Linked DNA regions of Homo sapiens. The protein of the gene in region 1 purifies or fractionates together with the protein of each later gene. This does not show direct contact. Each region holds a gene or a part of one and is shown on either strand. Other genes may lie near its edges.

Evidence for each region. The genes of interacting proteins can lie anywhere in the genome.
Region 2: the proteins of TSNARE1 (region 1) and NDE1 purify together in Homo sapiens (affinity purification with mass spectrometry; 3 studies listed by BioGRID and IntAct, with this or other methods). This does not show direct contact.

Annotation. Positions count from the first base shown.
Region 1 is NC_000008.11:142,393,149-142,400,221, reverse strand, and holds part of TSNARE1 (t-SNARE domain-containing protein 1), read left to right. Parts: intron 1-7,073.
Region 2 is NC_000016.10:15,645,246-15,653,244, forward strand, and holds the start of NDE1 (nuclear distribution protein nudE homolog 1), read left to right. Parts: upstream 1-4,999; 5' UTR 5,000-5,049; intron 5,050-6,770; exon of another isoform or gene 6,771-6,805; intron 6,806-7,999. UniProt on the Homo sapiens protein: Required for centrosome duplication and formation and function of the mitotic spindle. Essential for the development of the cerebral cortex.

The DNA.
Region 1 (7,073 bases):
TCAACCTGCCTCAGCCTCCCAAAGTGCTGGGATTACAGGCGTGAGCCACTGTGCCCAGCCACTTCTTCTTTTTGGCCAGGCTAGACTCAAGCTCCTGACCTTCAGGTGATCAACCTGCCTGAGCCACACACTGTAATCCCAGGTGTGAGCCACCGTGCCCAGCCACCTCTTTTTTTTTTTTTGAGATAGGCGTGTCTCACTGTGTTGCCCAGTTGCCCAGGCTGGTCTTGAACTCCTGGCCTTAAGCCATCCTCTGGCCTCAGCCTCCCGGAGTGCTGGGATTCCCAGCGTGAGTCATGGCGTCTGGCTCCAGGCTTTTTGTTTTAATGCACACGGGCGTTTCTGTGGCTACTGGGTTTGTTTGGATGGTGTTACTTGCTACAAGTAGACTTTGACCTTGTGGCCCAGTCCAGCTGTCATTCATTGTGTTCTTTAAAGTCTGATTTGTGCATCGTCCATAGTAGCAGACTCCTGAGCAGCCCTCCTCTCAGATTCCTCTGCTTTCTGCTGGGATGCTCAGCCCTGTCTAAACATTTGTGGCATCTGTGTGTGGAGCAGTGGTGACCAAAAGACTAAAGGCAAGAAGGAGTGAGTGAGAGAGTTGGAGAGCTCATGGCCGGCGCTGTCCCTCCAGAGGTGACAGTCAGTTGTTCAGTGTGGATGCTTATGTTTGGCTCTGCTCTCTGTACTGAGGGCATCCTCATCCTCTCCCTCTTGGGCGCATTGAGGCAGCTGGGGAAGATCATCATTCCTCCTGCCCCCACGGTCCCCAGCGCCAGTGGTGGACTCTGTACCTTTCCACACCTCCCTGTCTGCCACCCCACCCGCGGGGAGCTGTGCGTCTCTGAACGTCCATCCAGCTGTGGCCCAGGGCCTGGGGCCCAGTGAATGCCCGATGGGGATTTGCTGAAGACGTGAGGGGTTGTTTCACAGCTGATCTTGAGCCTGTGCTGTTCTTATTCCACTATCCTTCCTGTTAGTGCTGCATGGTGGAGCCATCTGGAAGCTTCCATAGGAAGAGTTTTCTTGGTCTGAGTTCCCTGGCAGAGAAGAAGGGCACTACCAACAATGACAAGCCAGGTGCCTTGAATAGGTTTCTGAAGATGCCTTATGGGCGGGGTGTCCTCACCTACGGAGCCCAGTTGGGCGGTGTCTCCTGCAGGGGCCTTGCTTCGGGGTGTCCTGCTTGCCATCCAGGGCTGTCCTCAGAAGCCAGCTGTGGCTGTCCTGCCTGGCCTTATCCAGGCTATGAGATTCTCTCGTCAACTTGCGGCTTGCTGAGTCTGGGATGGGGGTGAAGGTGGCTCCGTGTGGGCTTCAAATCCGGACTGTGCTGCACAGGGCCCTTCCTTTTTTGTCCTTGGGTAGGTCCTGTTAGGATGTGAACCCACTTGGGGGCCACTGCAGGCAAGCAGGACAGTCTACTGGGTGTTCCTGCCTGGACAGGGTCATTGGCAAGTCCCCAGCCCCTGCCCCTGCCATCAGGGCTGCTGTCTGAGATGTGTAATGTTCTGTGAGACTATGCTAAGGCCATGCCTGGCATGAGTCTTGGGATGGACACAGTGGCAAGCAGGATCAGGCTGTCCTGGCCTTGCTCCGGACACTGCTGTGCACCTTACAGAGCAAGGTCGAGGCAGTGGAGTGAGGAGGTGGAGAGGGCACCTTACAGAGCAAGGTTGAGGCGGTGGAGTGAGGAGGTGGAGAGGGCACCTTACAGAGCAAGGTTGAGGCGGTGGAGTGAGGAGGTGGAGAGGGGAGCTGACTCTGCTGGGGTTGTGCTTTGGCAGGGCTGGGGATGTGCTTTGGGAGGGTTTGGGGGCATATTTTGGGGCTGGAGGTGTGTTTTGGGTAGGGCCGGGGGCATGTTTTGGGCAGGGCTAGGGGTGTGTTTTGGGCAGGGCTGGGGGTGTGTTTTGGGCAGGGCTGGGGACATGTTTTGGGCAGGGCTAGGGGTGTGTTTTGGGCAGGGCTGGGGGTGCGCTTTGGGAGGGTTTGGGGGTGCGTTTTGGGCAGGGCTGGGTAGATACCTGGGAAGAATCCTGGATGCTGGTGAGGCCTGAGCTGTGTCTGGAGAGCTGAGTGGCCTTAGCTGGGGAGGGCAGGAGAGGCAGCTACTCCAGGCAGCGGGAGGCCCAAGGGAAGGCACAGCAGTGCTGGACTCCTAGTAGGCAGGTCTGACTCGGGTCAGCCTGTGAGGGTCTTGGGAGGCAGGGTGAGGCCTGGGCTTTTCTGATGGCTGTTGGTGCTGAGCAGGGAACCCGGGGCCCAGGCTGAGGTTTGCCGAAGAGGTCTGGAGACAGGGCTGGGTGGAGCAGTGCCACACCGAGGGCCTGTGTCTGGAGCCTGCAGGGGCCAGGCTCCATGCCTTGGCACTGTGTGCTGGGTGCCTTGTGGTGGCTGCGCTGTGGGCCCCCTCGATGGATTGGTGGGCTAGCCACGCAGCTGAGTGGACTGGCAGCAGCTGCTGCTCATTGTCCTGGCAACCCTGGGCTTCAGGCTGCAGGCTCGAGCCCTCCCCAGCATGGAAGCCAGTGAGCAGAGCCAGGCACTCACGCTGGCCTGGGAGCCTCTGGCCCAGTGCTGTGGCCAGATCAACTGTTGTTTTCTTCCACAGTGGAAGATTGCCTCGTTTTCTCCCTCTGATTTGCCCTGTGGGGAGGGCTACAACCCAGCCCTGACTTACGTAACATCCAGGTAGGGACACAGCATTGCCACATCTTAGCCGTGGGACCCTGGCCATGTCACTTGGCCCCTCCAGGAGCCCTGCCTTTCCATGTCATTAGTCTGATCCTGCAGCCTCCTGGGAGGTGGGCAGCATTGTGTCTGTCCCAGAGACTTGGAATCTCCGGGCGTCTTGGGGGACATCACCTGAGGGGTGTAGGGAAGAATTCCCAAGGTGCACAGAGGGGCTGTGGAAGGTCAGGGAGTGCAGCCCCAGGGTAGGCGGAGCTGCCTCTCTCCTGTGAGACCCTCGGGCTGCCTCGCCACTGCCACACAGAGGGGCTGTGGAAGGTCAGGGAGTGCAGCCCCAGGGCAGGCGGAGCTGCCTCTCTCCTGTGAGACCCTCGGGCTGCCTCGCCACTGCCACACATAGGGGCTGTGGAAGGTCAGGGAGTGCAGCCCCAGGGCAGGCGGAGCTGCCTCTCTCCTGTGAGACCCTCGGGCTGCCTCGCCACTGCCACACATAGGGGCTGTGGAAGGTCAGGGAGTGCAGCCCCAGGGCAGGTGGAGCTGCCTCTCTCCTGTGAGACCCTCGGGCTGCCTCGCCACTGCTACACACATCACAGAGCTTGCTCTACCTGGTCAGCCATGGCACGGCCAGCTCGCACAGTAGACCTGAGCGTCAGGCTGTCTTGGATTCTGATTATAACAACACCTCCTGCTTTTGACCACAGGGCATCTGTCAGGCACCTGCTAGGCTCTTCCTGCTCCTCAGATCAGGAAACTTCCCAGCCTTGGGAAACTTACCTGAAGTCACGGGGGTGGTAAATGCCCAGCCATGACTTGAGCCCTGGTGTTCTCACCAGGATTCTGATCAGAGGCAGAAATCAGAGGCATTGCTCACCGTTCTGCTGCCCGGCCCACCTGGCGATCCTGCCCTGCTGCTCTCCAGGGGGACCAGGCTGGAAGCAGCTTTACAAACAAAAATTCCCTGTTGAGTTAGAGGATGTTATTAATAATGGCAATTACTGCACTAATAAAGACCTAATCCTGTCCCTCCCTTCCATCTTGAGATGATGTTCCAGAGCAGAGTGTGGCAGGGGTTCACAGGCTTGAAGGAATCCAGGTATGGAGGTTGAGATTTCTGATGGAGAGGGGAGGTGGGCGGAGCTCAAGATTCTTGTTCCCATAAGGCTTGAGGCTAGGAGGTCGGGGTGGTGTGAGCCCCCAGAGGCTGTGGTTGCCTGTGGATGGTGTCTAGCTGAGTCAAGCGTTTCCAGGGCTTTGGGGCCAGGTGCGCGGGTGTGTGCGTGTGTGTGTGTGTGTTTGTGTTTATCGCCTGAGCCTGACCCTGGGTGTCATCTGAGGGGTGCACACTGAACCTGTACCAATGGGAAGCTGGGCATTGGAGGGGTGATGGTGAAGGAGTTGAGTGTGGCATGGTCTGGGGAAGATGAGGGCCAGTGTTCTGAGGGCATGGGTCATCAAGGGTCCTGTCAGAGAGCCACGGACAAAGAGAGCCACAGGCGTCTGCCCTGGACAGAGCCACGGACAAAGAGAGCCACAGGCGTCTGCCCTGGACAGAGCGGGCCACCTTGGCTGCCCTCCATCTGGACCCATGATCCATTCTAGCGAAGTATTTGGAAGGGGACATGTTTTTAAACCAGAGCCCAGAATCAGTCTCTCCCAACATTAGAAAGAAGCAACACAACACAGCAGCCTCCTTCCTGGGCTGGCTGCCCTCGGTGCTAATGAGGAGCTGGATTCCTTGCTGGGAGTCTGACCTCCTTCCCGCTGCTGCTCACTTGTGGGAAGGTGCTGATGAGCGTGGTGTGCTGGGAGTGGGCGCAGGAGGCGGAATTGCAAGTGGGGAGAACCGTTGCTTCTGCTGCTTCGTGGTACCTGGGCGTTTTCGCCGGTCACAGCCTCCAGCCTGGGCCCCTTAATTCTGCATCTTGCTGAGGGGTAGATCCGGCGGTGCCGCCCCCTGGCGACAGATCTTCCTGGCAGCTCCAGCCTCACTGTCACTTGGCATCTGCGGTGCTCCATGGGCTTTCCAGCCCCTGGGAAACCTGCTGCGCTGACTCCGCAGGCTGCCTGCAGCCTGCCCCCCGTGTCTTTGCTGGGGCCGCCCCTCTGCCTGGAGTGGCCCCGACTGGTGACCTCCTGGGCTGTTGAAGTCTCCGCTGGGGGACGCCGTCAGGAGTCAGCCCCATCCCCTCATCCTGAGGGCCTGGTGCCTCCCGGGGAGGGCAAGGTAGAGAGAGGGCTGCAGATTTTGGGAAGTGGCTCTGCGTGGCTTGGGCCTTGTTGCATTGCAGTCATTAGCTTTCCTCCTCCAGGGCCAGGACCTTGTCTTTTCTGTCTCTGTGGTCCCAGCACAGGAAAATGCCCACAGTGGGCACAAGATAACCATGGGAGGAGCTGAGCCTCACCTTTAGGCCGCTCAGCCTTTGATGCACGGGGCCGCCCCCCTTCCCTGCCAGGAGCAGGAAGTGGTGGGGGACAGGAACAGCGATGCTTCCTGCAGGCGGGCAGGTCCTGAATTCCCAGAGCAGCCTCCAAGGTGACACCATCACCCTATCTTACGGAAGGGAGACCGGGTCACCTGCTTGCATCTCTCCTTATGGAGACTTGGCTTCTAGGGCCCTGCACCCTTAGCGCACCTCACTGTCCCCAGGGCGCAGGCACAGCCTGGGATGCTGCCAGCAGAGGAGACTTGGCAGGGCACACAGGGACGTGGACAGGCACGCTGGCAGCTGGGGCGTGGGGAGTGCTGCGGTGACCCTGCGGACCATCCCACAGCTTAGAGCTCAATGGCATGGTGGCCCTGCTGCCCCTGGTTGGAGCAGGGAGGTGGGAGTTGTTTTCTGTCCAACCTGAGAGGTGATGTAGTTTCCCAAGACCATGAAGCAAGCACAGAGCAGAGCTGTGGGAGGAATCCCGTGGGGTCTGGCCGTAGAAACTGTGGCCTGTCATTCCCACACTGCGCCATGGGAAATGGGCCCAGGACTGTGGGGCACTTCCAGGTGAGTCGATTTGTGCCTTGGAACCCCGGAGGTTCTAGTCTTAGACCTGCTGCCATCATCGTCCCTCCCTTTACCCAGAGCAGCTCTGATGTGATCTGTTTCACTTGGTGTTTTCTGAGTACGGTTGTGTTTGGAGAAAAGATTCTGTAGCTACTGCTTTCACTCCCCAGTTTACAGATGGGGAGTAAGAGGTCCGAGCTGTCCGGTCCACCCGCCCTGCTGCTGTGGGGTGCCCACACCCTGGTTCCTTCAGTCTGGCAGGGTGGTCCGATGGGCAGAGCACCTCCCGTCTTTCTGCGTATCTGCCCCCAAAGCTGTTATCTTGACACCTTAACCGGTGTGAGAGGGTATGGAGGCCACTGGAGGCCGCAGGCATAAGCGTGGGGCCCACGGGCAGCCTGCAGGCTTCTGCCTTAGCCAGGGCAGGAGGGCCTCCCAGCCCAGCAAGGAGTGAAGACGGGCAGCCAGCGTGGGCAGAGCTGTGATTGGACGGGTGGAGAATGTAACCTGTATGGTTTTGCTTTCGTAATGAACATCCCTCAGGTTTTAGTAGCCTGAAGCAACAAAGGTGTGTGTTCATTGGGGATTCACAGTTCATTGGCCAGGAGGAACCACACGGCTGCAACCACAAGAGGCCAGGAAGTGCCCCACACTCCCCGAGGGAGGAGAACTGGAAGTCTCGGTTGAGCAGCACGAGGGATGCCACACCAGCACGTAGCCAGGCAGCTTGTGCTGTGAACCGGCCACCTTTGCTGCCCAGGCTTTCCCTCGATTTTCCTCCTGGGCTTCCCTATCTGCAGTAGGAGAGGGTGGGCTGTGTGACACTTCACCTCCCTCTAGGCCTCTGCTCCAGGAGGTGGTGGAGTGGACGGGGCAGGTGCTCGGGGAGTCAGACCAGGGAGAATGTGGCCTCTGCTCTCTCAGCACCTTCGGGCGTGGCGTTTGGCATCTCAGGATCTTTTTGTAAATTAAACTATTGTGACCATTGTAAATTCACATACAGTTGTGAGAAATAATACACAGATCCTGTGCACTCTTCACCCAGTTTTCCCCGTGGTAGCTTTGTGCAGAACGAGGACAGTAGCACAGCCAGCGGATTGGCCGACGCGGCCGCCATGCCAGAGGTTTCCGTCATCACTCAGAGGAGCCCTGTGTCGGTGCCCGTTTCAGCGAAGCCTACCTTGCTTCTGCCATGAACCCTTCCTTAACTCCTGGGAGCCACCAGTCTGCTCTCCATCTCCGTAATGTCGTCAGTTGAAGCGAGTCGTAGAAATGGAATCTTGCAGTGTGTGGCCGGGGATTGGCTTTTTCTATTCGCCATCGTTCCCCGGATGGTTCTCAGGGCTGCTGCAGGGGCCAGGAGTGGTTTCTTCCTGTTGCTGA
Region 2 (7,999 bases), on another chromosome or scaffold:
TTCCTTTTTACCAAGCAGACACATTTTGTTTGACTTAGCTTGGCATTCTTTCAAGTCCAAAGCTGTAACTAGTCACAACAAGTAAATGTAGTGATTGAAAATGGGCGGGGCATGGTGACTCATGTCGTAATCCCAGCACTTTGGGAGGCTGAGACAGGAGGACCCCTTGAGGCTTGGTGTTTAAAACCAGCCTGAGCAACATGGTGTGACACTTGTCTCTATTAAAAAAATTTTTAAAAACAAAACAGTCGTATTAAGTGGAAGGCTAATAAAAGTCTGAATTACAAATACTTTTAAAAGAAATGTAATTTTATTGCTGCTTTCTAAAGACTAGGAGCCTAAGCAAAGTATACCAGGCCTTAGGAGACAATTATGAATCAAAATACATAAATTTTCTCTTAAGATATATTTTAAGTATGTATCCTCTATTAATTGTATTCCTGTTTCTTTGCTGGGAAAACTTTAGAGAGTACAAGTAACTTTCAGTTTTTCCCTTGTCCAAATTATAGTCTTCACATGTATGAAAACCGAAAGACTTTTTTGTGTGCTATTTAAGTAGCTACTTTACATGCAATTCAGCTTTTCAACTAACCAAGCTGTTATTAAAGGAGTTTCTCCCCAGAAACCAATCTTCTACCTGTATTAGGTTCAGTGGTTTGAATTAATAAATGATCATGGAAGGACCTAAGGAAGTTAAATTGAGTTATCTGCTCAGCCATAGTCCAAAGCTACAAGGAAAACAAATTGAATTTAAAAAGAACAAGAAAAACATTTTAAATGTTTTTAAGGTTTTACCCAATGACAAACCTATTTCCCTAAATGTTGTTCCCAAATAGGACTTTAAGGATTATTATTTCAATGCCCTCTCTTTTTTCTTTATGGAAAATTTGGGAAATTGAGAACCAACTAGTTTAAATACCTTGATCAAAGCCATTTAGGCAACACCAGTACCTCATCAGTTTGTGCTTCGGTTTCTCTGTAAGCTGAGGTGATTAGTTCCTGTCCAGAAACGTCACAGAGTGGTTAGGGCCAAATAAAATTCCGAGGGGGGCCAGGCGCAGTGGCTCACGCCTGTAATCCCAGCACTTTGGGAGGCCGAGGCAGGTGGATCACTTGAGGTCAGGAGTTCGAGACCAGCCTGGCCAAACCAACATGGTGAAACCCTGTGTCTACTAAAACTACAAAATTAGCTGGACGTGGTGGTGCACACCTGAAATCCCAGCTACTCAGGAATCTGAGGCAGGAGAATCGCTTGAACCCAGGAGGAAGAGGTTGCGGTGAGCCGAGATCGTGCCACTGCACTCCAGCCTGGGCAACAGAACGAGACTCCGTCAAAAAAAAGAAAAAAAAAATCCAAGGGGGGTTAATACCAGCTACTTGGTAGGCTGAGGCAGGAGAATCGCTTGAACTGGAAGGTGGAGGTTACAATGAGCCGAGATCGCACCACTGCACTCTAGCCTGGGCGACAGAGTGAGATTCCATCTTAATGAATAAGTAAATAAGTAATAAAATTCCTAAGGGGAGGCTTGGTGTGGTGGCTCATGCCTGTAATCCCAGCACTTTTGGAGGCTGAGGCGGGTGGAGCACTTGAGGTCAGGAGTTCAAAACCAGCCTGGCCAACATGGTGAAACCCTGCCTCTACTAAAATAGAAAAATTAGGTGGGCATGGTGGTGAACACCTGTAATCCCAGCTAGTCGAAAGGCTGAGGCAGGAGAATCGCTTGAACCCGGGAGGTGGAGGTTGCAGTGAGCCGAGATTGCAGCACTGCACTCTAGCCTGGGCAACAGAGTGAAACTCTGTCTCGAAATAAAATAAAATTCCAAGGGGGAAGGCATCAGACGTAGTAAAGTGTGAAGCAGCATGTAAATGATTCATTAATGTTTGGGAAGTTTCCTGAAAGACATTTGGTACTTTCCTTAAACCTGTTGATAGGTGGTGGGGTTCCCCTTTGTGCCTCTAAGCAGTTTTTAGGAATTAGCAAGGAGTTCAAAGTAGAATTTGAGAAAGGCTGTTGTAGGATAGCAGGAAGGCAAGATGGGGTGGGAGATCCTGTAATAGCTAAGATCTCTTTGCCTCTAGCATAGTGCTGAAGAAGGAGGGTTTAGGAGTCAGAGCCAGCTCTGAAGCCTGATTTGTTAATTACTAGTTGTAAGACCTCGGACAACTCAATTAACTTCCTGCACCTTTATTTTCTTATCTTTAACATGGATACAATTTAATGCTTTCCTGTGGTTCATCACCTGTGGTTCAGTTGCATGGTCTCCTCTCTACAGTGGCCTTCCCTGACTATAGCATCTGAAGTGACCCCTCCCAGCCCGTTGTATCAAATGGGCTTGCCTTAGTCATAGCACTTATCAGTATCTGAAATGACGTTACTTTTTCTGCTTATAGATTTAGTATGTTTCTCTCTTAACAATATAAGCCCTTTGAGGACAGGTACTTTGTCTGACTGTATTCACTGTGCTGTAAGGGTGCATTGTACAGAAGAATGCTCATAATGCCGGGTGCTGTGGTTCATGCCTATAATCCCAGCACTTTGGGAGGGAGGCTGAGGCAGGAGGATCACTTGAGCCCAGGAGTTCAAGACCAGCCTGGGCAACATAGTGAGATCCACGTCTCTACAAAAAAATGTAAAAATTAGCTGGGCGTGTTGGTGCACACCTGTGGTCCTAGCTACTCCGGAGGATGAGGTGGGAGGATCACTTGAGCCTGGGAGGTCCAGGATGCAGTGAGCTTTGATTATGCCACTGCACTCCAGCCTATGTCACAGGGTGAGACTCTGTCTCACAAAAAAAAAAAAAAGCTGGATAATAATATATATATTTTTAGTTTTTATGGGTACACTGTAGGTGTTTATATTTATGGGGTACATGAGATATTTTGATAACAGGCATGCAATGCATCATAATCACATCAGGGTAAATGGGTGTCCATGACCTCAAGCATTTATCCTTTCTTTGTGTTACAAGCACTCCAATTATACTCCTTTAGTTATTTTAAAATGTACAATACATTGTTGTGGACTGTAGTCACCCTGCTGTGCTCCCAAATACTAGATCTTATTCATTCTAACTCTATTTTTGTACCCACTAACCAGAATGTTCGGTATTTGTTAATGAACATGTTATGACAGGATGTTTTAGAAGAAAATAAAGAAAAAAAGAAATTCCAGCCAAGCATGGTGGCTTGATTTTATTTATTTATTTATTTTGAGATGAAGTCTCCCTCTGTCTCCCAGGCTGGAATGCAGTGGCGTGATCTCCACTCACCGCAACCTCTGCCTTCTGAGTTACATGGCTCACGCCTGTAATCCCAGCACTTTGGGAGACTGAGGTGTATTGCTTGAGGTCAGGAGTTCGAGACCAGCCTGGCCAACACAGTGAAACCGTGTCTCTACTAAAAATACAAAAAATTAGCTGGGCGTAATGGTGGGCGCCTGTAATCCCAGCTACTAGGGAGACTAAGACAAGAAAATCGCTTGAATCTGGGAGGCAGAGGTTGCAGTGAGCCGAGATCGCACCATTGCACGCCAGCCTGGGCAACAAGAGGGAAACTCTGTCTCGAAAAGAAAAAAATTATTTTTTAATTTTAATTTGTTAGTGAACAATTAGGGTTGCTGTGAGAATTGTGCCTGGCACACACAGCCATTTAAAAATCACGATCTTCAGGCAGTGTGTGGTGGCTCACGCCTGTAATCCCAGGACTTTGGGAGGCCGAGGTGGGTGGATCACCTGAGGACAGGGATTCGAGAGCAGCCTGGCCAACATGGTGAAACCCCGTCTCTACTAAAAATATAAAAATTAGCCGGGTGTGGTGATGCGGGCCTGTGATCCCAGCTACTCGGGAGGCTGAAGCAGGAGAATTGCTTGAACTCAGAAGGCAGAGGTTGCAGTGAGTGGAGATCACGCCACTGCATTCCAGCCTGGGAGACAGAGGGAGATTTCATCTCAAAATAAATAAATAAACAAAATCAAGATCATTTAACAAATACATATATTGTACTTACTAAGTTCAAATTTCTGTTCTAAACGTTTTTACAAATGCTGTTAAGTCATTTAGTCCTCTGCATAATGTCGTTTGTTTGTTTGTCTGTTCTTTAAGACGGAGTCTTGCCCTGTCGCCTAGGCTAGAGTGCAGTGGTGTGATCTCGGCTCACTGCAACCGCCACCTCCCGGTTTCCCGTGATTCTCCTGCCTCAGCCTCCTGAGTAGCTGGGATTACAGGTGCGTGCCACCACATCCGGCTAATTTTTTGTATCTTTAGTAGAGACGGGGTTTCACCATGTGCCAGGCTGGTCTTGAACTCCTGACCTCGTGATCCACCCGCCTTGGCCTCCCAAAGTGCTGGGATTACAGGCGTGACCACCGCGCCAGACCCATAATGGCGTTTTATAGATGGGGAAACGGAGTCATAGAGGCTAAACAACTTTCCCAAGACCACACAGTTAGTAAGGGGCAGGACTAGGACTCAAAGCCAAGTTTATGACCAAATTCTGGTGCACTACGTTCTCCTGCTTCTGGAGAAGATAATGATGCTGAAGATTCTACTTTTGGTGTAAAGGAGTAGGAAGGGCACGGGGCACTGCTAGCTTCAGTGGGCCTGAATCTTTGTCTTTCCTTCTGATTTGGAGAAAGTGCAAGAATGGGAAAATGCAATCGAAGTGAAGGAGAGGCCGGCGTATTTTCCTGAAATGCGCGGCCCGCAAGCCCAAACCCGTTTCCCGGGTGTCCAGGCAGCGTTCTGCAGCATCTCCAATGCCCGCCAGCCCGCCGCAGCCCAGCGCCCGGCAGCCGGCGCCTCTCAAACCCCCTCCGGCCAGGAGCCTTCGCCGCTTGGCCGCGCCGCGCCCGGCCTGGGAAAAAAGTTTCCAAACGACGCTGCTCTGCGCTGATTGGCCGAGGCGGACGCGGTACCGTAGAGCAGCAGCCAATGGGAGGCGCCGACCGCAGGCTCCGGGGCGGGGGCGGGGTCCGGAGGGCCGGGGCCGCACCGCCCTTCGCAGCCGCCTCTGCCGCCGCCGCCGCGTTGGCCTCGCCGCCCCTGCTCGGGTAAGTGAGGCGCTGCGCGGGGCTGGGGTCGGGGTGGCTGTCCGGGGACCTCCACCGCGGCTGAAAAGCTCCTCTGCCCCGCCCCAGGATCCCGGGACCCCGGGCCACCGCCTGGCAGGGACCCCTACGCCCCTCGCTTGCGCGTCGCTTCCCGGCCGCCTGGACTCCCCCGGTCCCTGGGCTCCAAAATCCCGCCTCCCTGGAGCCTCCCGTCCTAAAAAGTTAGGCACTGAGTGCCTTGCCACCGGTGCGTTCCTCGCGCTGGCCCCTCGCCCTTGGCAACTTTGTTTCTCTTTCTGCGTTGGTCTCTCTCCCACCCCGTTGCCCTCTTCTCCTTCCGGGACTTCCTGGGTGGTTAAGCCTTGCCGGTCCCCAAACCCCGCTGCCAGGCTCCATCCTCTTTCTCCTCTTCCTTCCTCCCCATACTCCTCTCCTAGATGACCCTCGTTTCTTTTCTCTCTCTCTCCTATTCCTCCATCCTGCCACCCGCTTCTCTGCGACCCCAGACCCCTCGATTGCAGCGTTGCCCCTGCCCTCACACCCACTGTCCCGCCCCTGCAGGCCTCTTTCCAAAAACCCACCCTGCTCCCTCCCTCCGGGAACACGTTTGGGGCAGTCTGCTCTCCGCTTTGCTCCCGTCTCTGCCGCAGGACGGTTCAGGTTTCTTCTGACAGCACTTTGGGGAGGGATTGGGTAAAGGACGAAAATGCTTATTCCGCAGCTTGAGTGATGGCTGGGCTCACTGAGGACCTGAGTCTCTGAGGTCCTGGGAAACCCCGCTGTCACCTTGACACCGCTTTTGGGGAGGCGACTTTATCTTCTCCGAGCCATCTCAGGCTTTCTGCCTCCTGAGGGCCTGAGCTTCCTTGATTGCTTTGTCCGTGGTTACTACCAGGTTGTGCCTCTTAATTTCTACTTTGAGCCTCAGGCCCCTTTTAACTTTCTAAAGAAAAGGCCTTTGCAGCACGACCTAGGCAGGTTCATCATTTTTAGTTTTGTTATAGTGTATTCTAGCATAGGATGGCATTTTAGGACATGGGTCGGGTGTTTTGAAGATTAATTAGATCCCAGCTACTCCTAAAGCCTCTTGTTACCCGACCACCCCAGCCTCCATCACCTCGTTGGTATACAACCCGTTTTTTTTTTTTTTTTTTTGTTTTTGTTTTTGAGACAGAGTCTCACTCTCGCCCAGGTTGGAGTGCAGTGGTGCGATTTTGGCTCACTGCAACCTCCGCTTCCCGGGTTCAAGCGATTCTCCTGCCTCAGCCTCCGGAGTAGCTGGGACTACAGGTGCGTGCCACCACGCCTGGCTAATTTTTTGTATTTTTAGTAGAGATGGGGTTTCACCGTGTTAGCCAGGATGGTCTCGATTTCCTGACCTCGTGATCTGCCCCCTCGGCCTCCCAAAGTGCTGGGATTACAGGCGTGAGCCACCGTGCCGGCCTACAACCCATTTTGAGCCTTTCCTCTTAGTGTGTGTTTTGTGTAGGATTAAATGCAGATGATCTGTGCCGCTGAAGTCTCAGGGGCCTGTGATTCATATATTTTATCCCATGTTGGATAACAGTTTATTAACTTGACTTATTTTTGTTTCCAAAGTGTGTTATTTATTATTTATTTATTTATTTATTTTGAGACGGAGTCTTGTTCTTGTCCAGGCTGGAGTGCAGTGGCATGATCTCGACTCACTGCAACCTCAGTCCTCCGGGTTCAAGTGATTCTTCTGCCTCACCCTCCTGAGTAGCTGGGATTACAGGTGCGTGCCACCATGCCCGGCTAATTCTTAGTAGAGATGGGGTTTCACCATATTGGCCAGGCTGGTCTCAAACTTCTGACCTCGTGATCTGCCCACCTCAGCCTCCCAAAGTGTTGGGATTACAGGCATGAGCCACTGCACCCGACTCTATCATTATTATTATTTTTTATGTAGAGGCAGAATCTTGCTTTGTTGCCCAGGCTGGTCTCAAATTCCTGGGCTCAAGCAGTCCTCCTGCCTTGGCCTCCCACAGTGCTGAGATTACTTGCAGGCATGAGCCACTGCATGCAGCCCAAAGTGTGTTCTTTTGCCTTAGAATGTGAGCCGAGAATTGACACTCCTTTTCCTCACAAGGTAATTTCCTAACATGAGCATTCCTGTGTACAGAAAGTTTGTGCCTGCAGTTAGTACTACACGTGCACCTCGTGCAATGGATGTGGGTGCTTTTTGTCTGCCTCCTTCAGCAGTGCCCAGCACTTAGTAGGTATTCAAGAAATGTTTGAAAAGGGTTGGAGGAGGCAAAACCACAGTAGGAAAAATTCTTTCCCTGTCACTTGGTTCAGTAGAATAAAATTATCCTGGAACAATAGCTATTTTACTTTTTGTCCAAGTTTTTGTTTGTTTGTTTTTTGAGACGGGATCTCACTCTGTCGCCCAAGCTGGAACACAGTGATGCAATCACAGCTCACTGCAGTCTCGACCTCTCAGGCTCAAGCAATCCTCTTGCCTGAGCCTCCCAAGTAGCTGGGACTAAAAGCACATGCCACCATGCTTGGCTAATTTTTAAAATTTTTTGTAGAGATTGGGGTCTCACTATGTTGCCCAGGCTGGTCTCGAACTCCTGGGTTCAAGCGATCCTTCCGCCTCAGCCTCCCAACGTGCCGGGGTGGGAGAGAGCCACCGCGCCTGGCCTAAGCTTTTTAAAATCTCTAAAGCGATCTATGCTTACTGTATATATGTGTATGTAGTTTACCTTAAAGCAAGGTGTCAGGTACAAATCCACAGGGCTTGCTTTACCCCCATTCTGGTGCATCCTCCAGACCCTTTTCTATTCTGTGTACAGAGAGAGGGAAATAAACAAAAATGGGCACCCATTTTTAACATATCCTGAGCTTTCTTCCATATTAGTACTTACAGTTCTTAACAACTGCATCGTTTTCCATTCAGTCCTCTGTTGACATTGAGGTTTCCAGT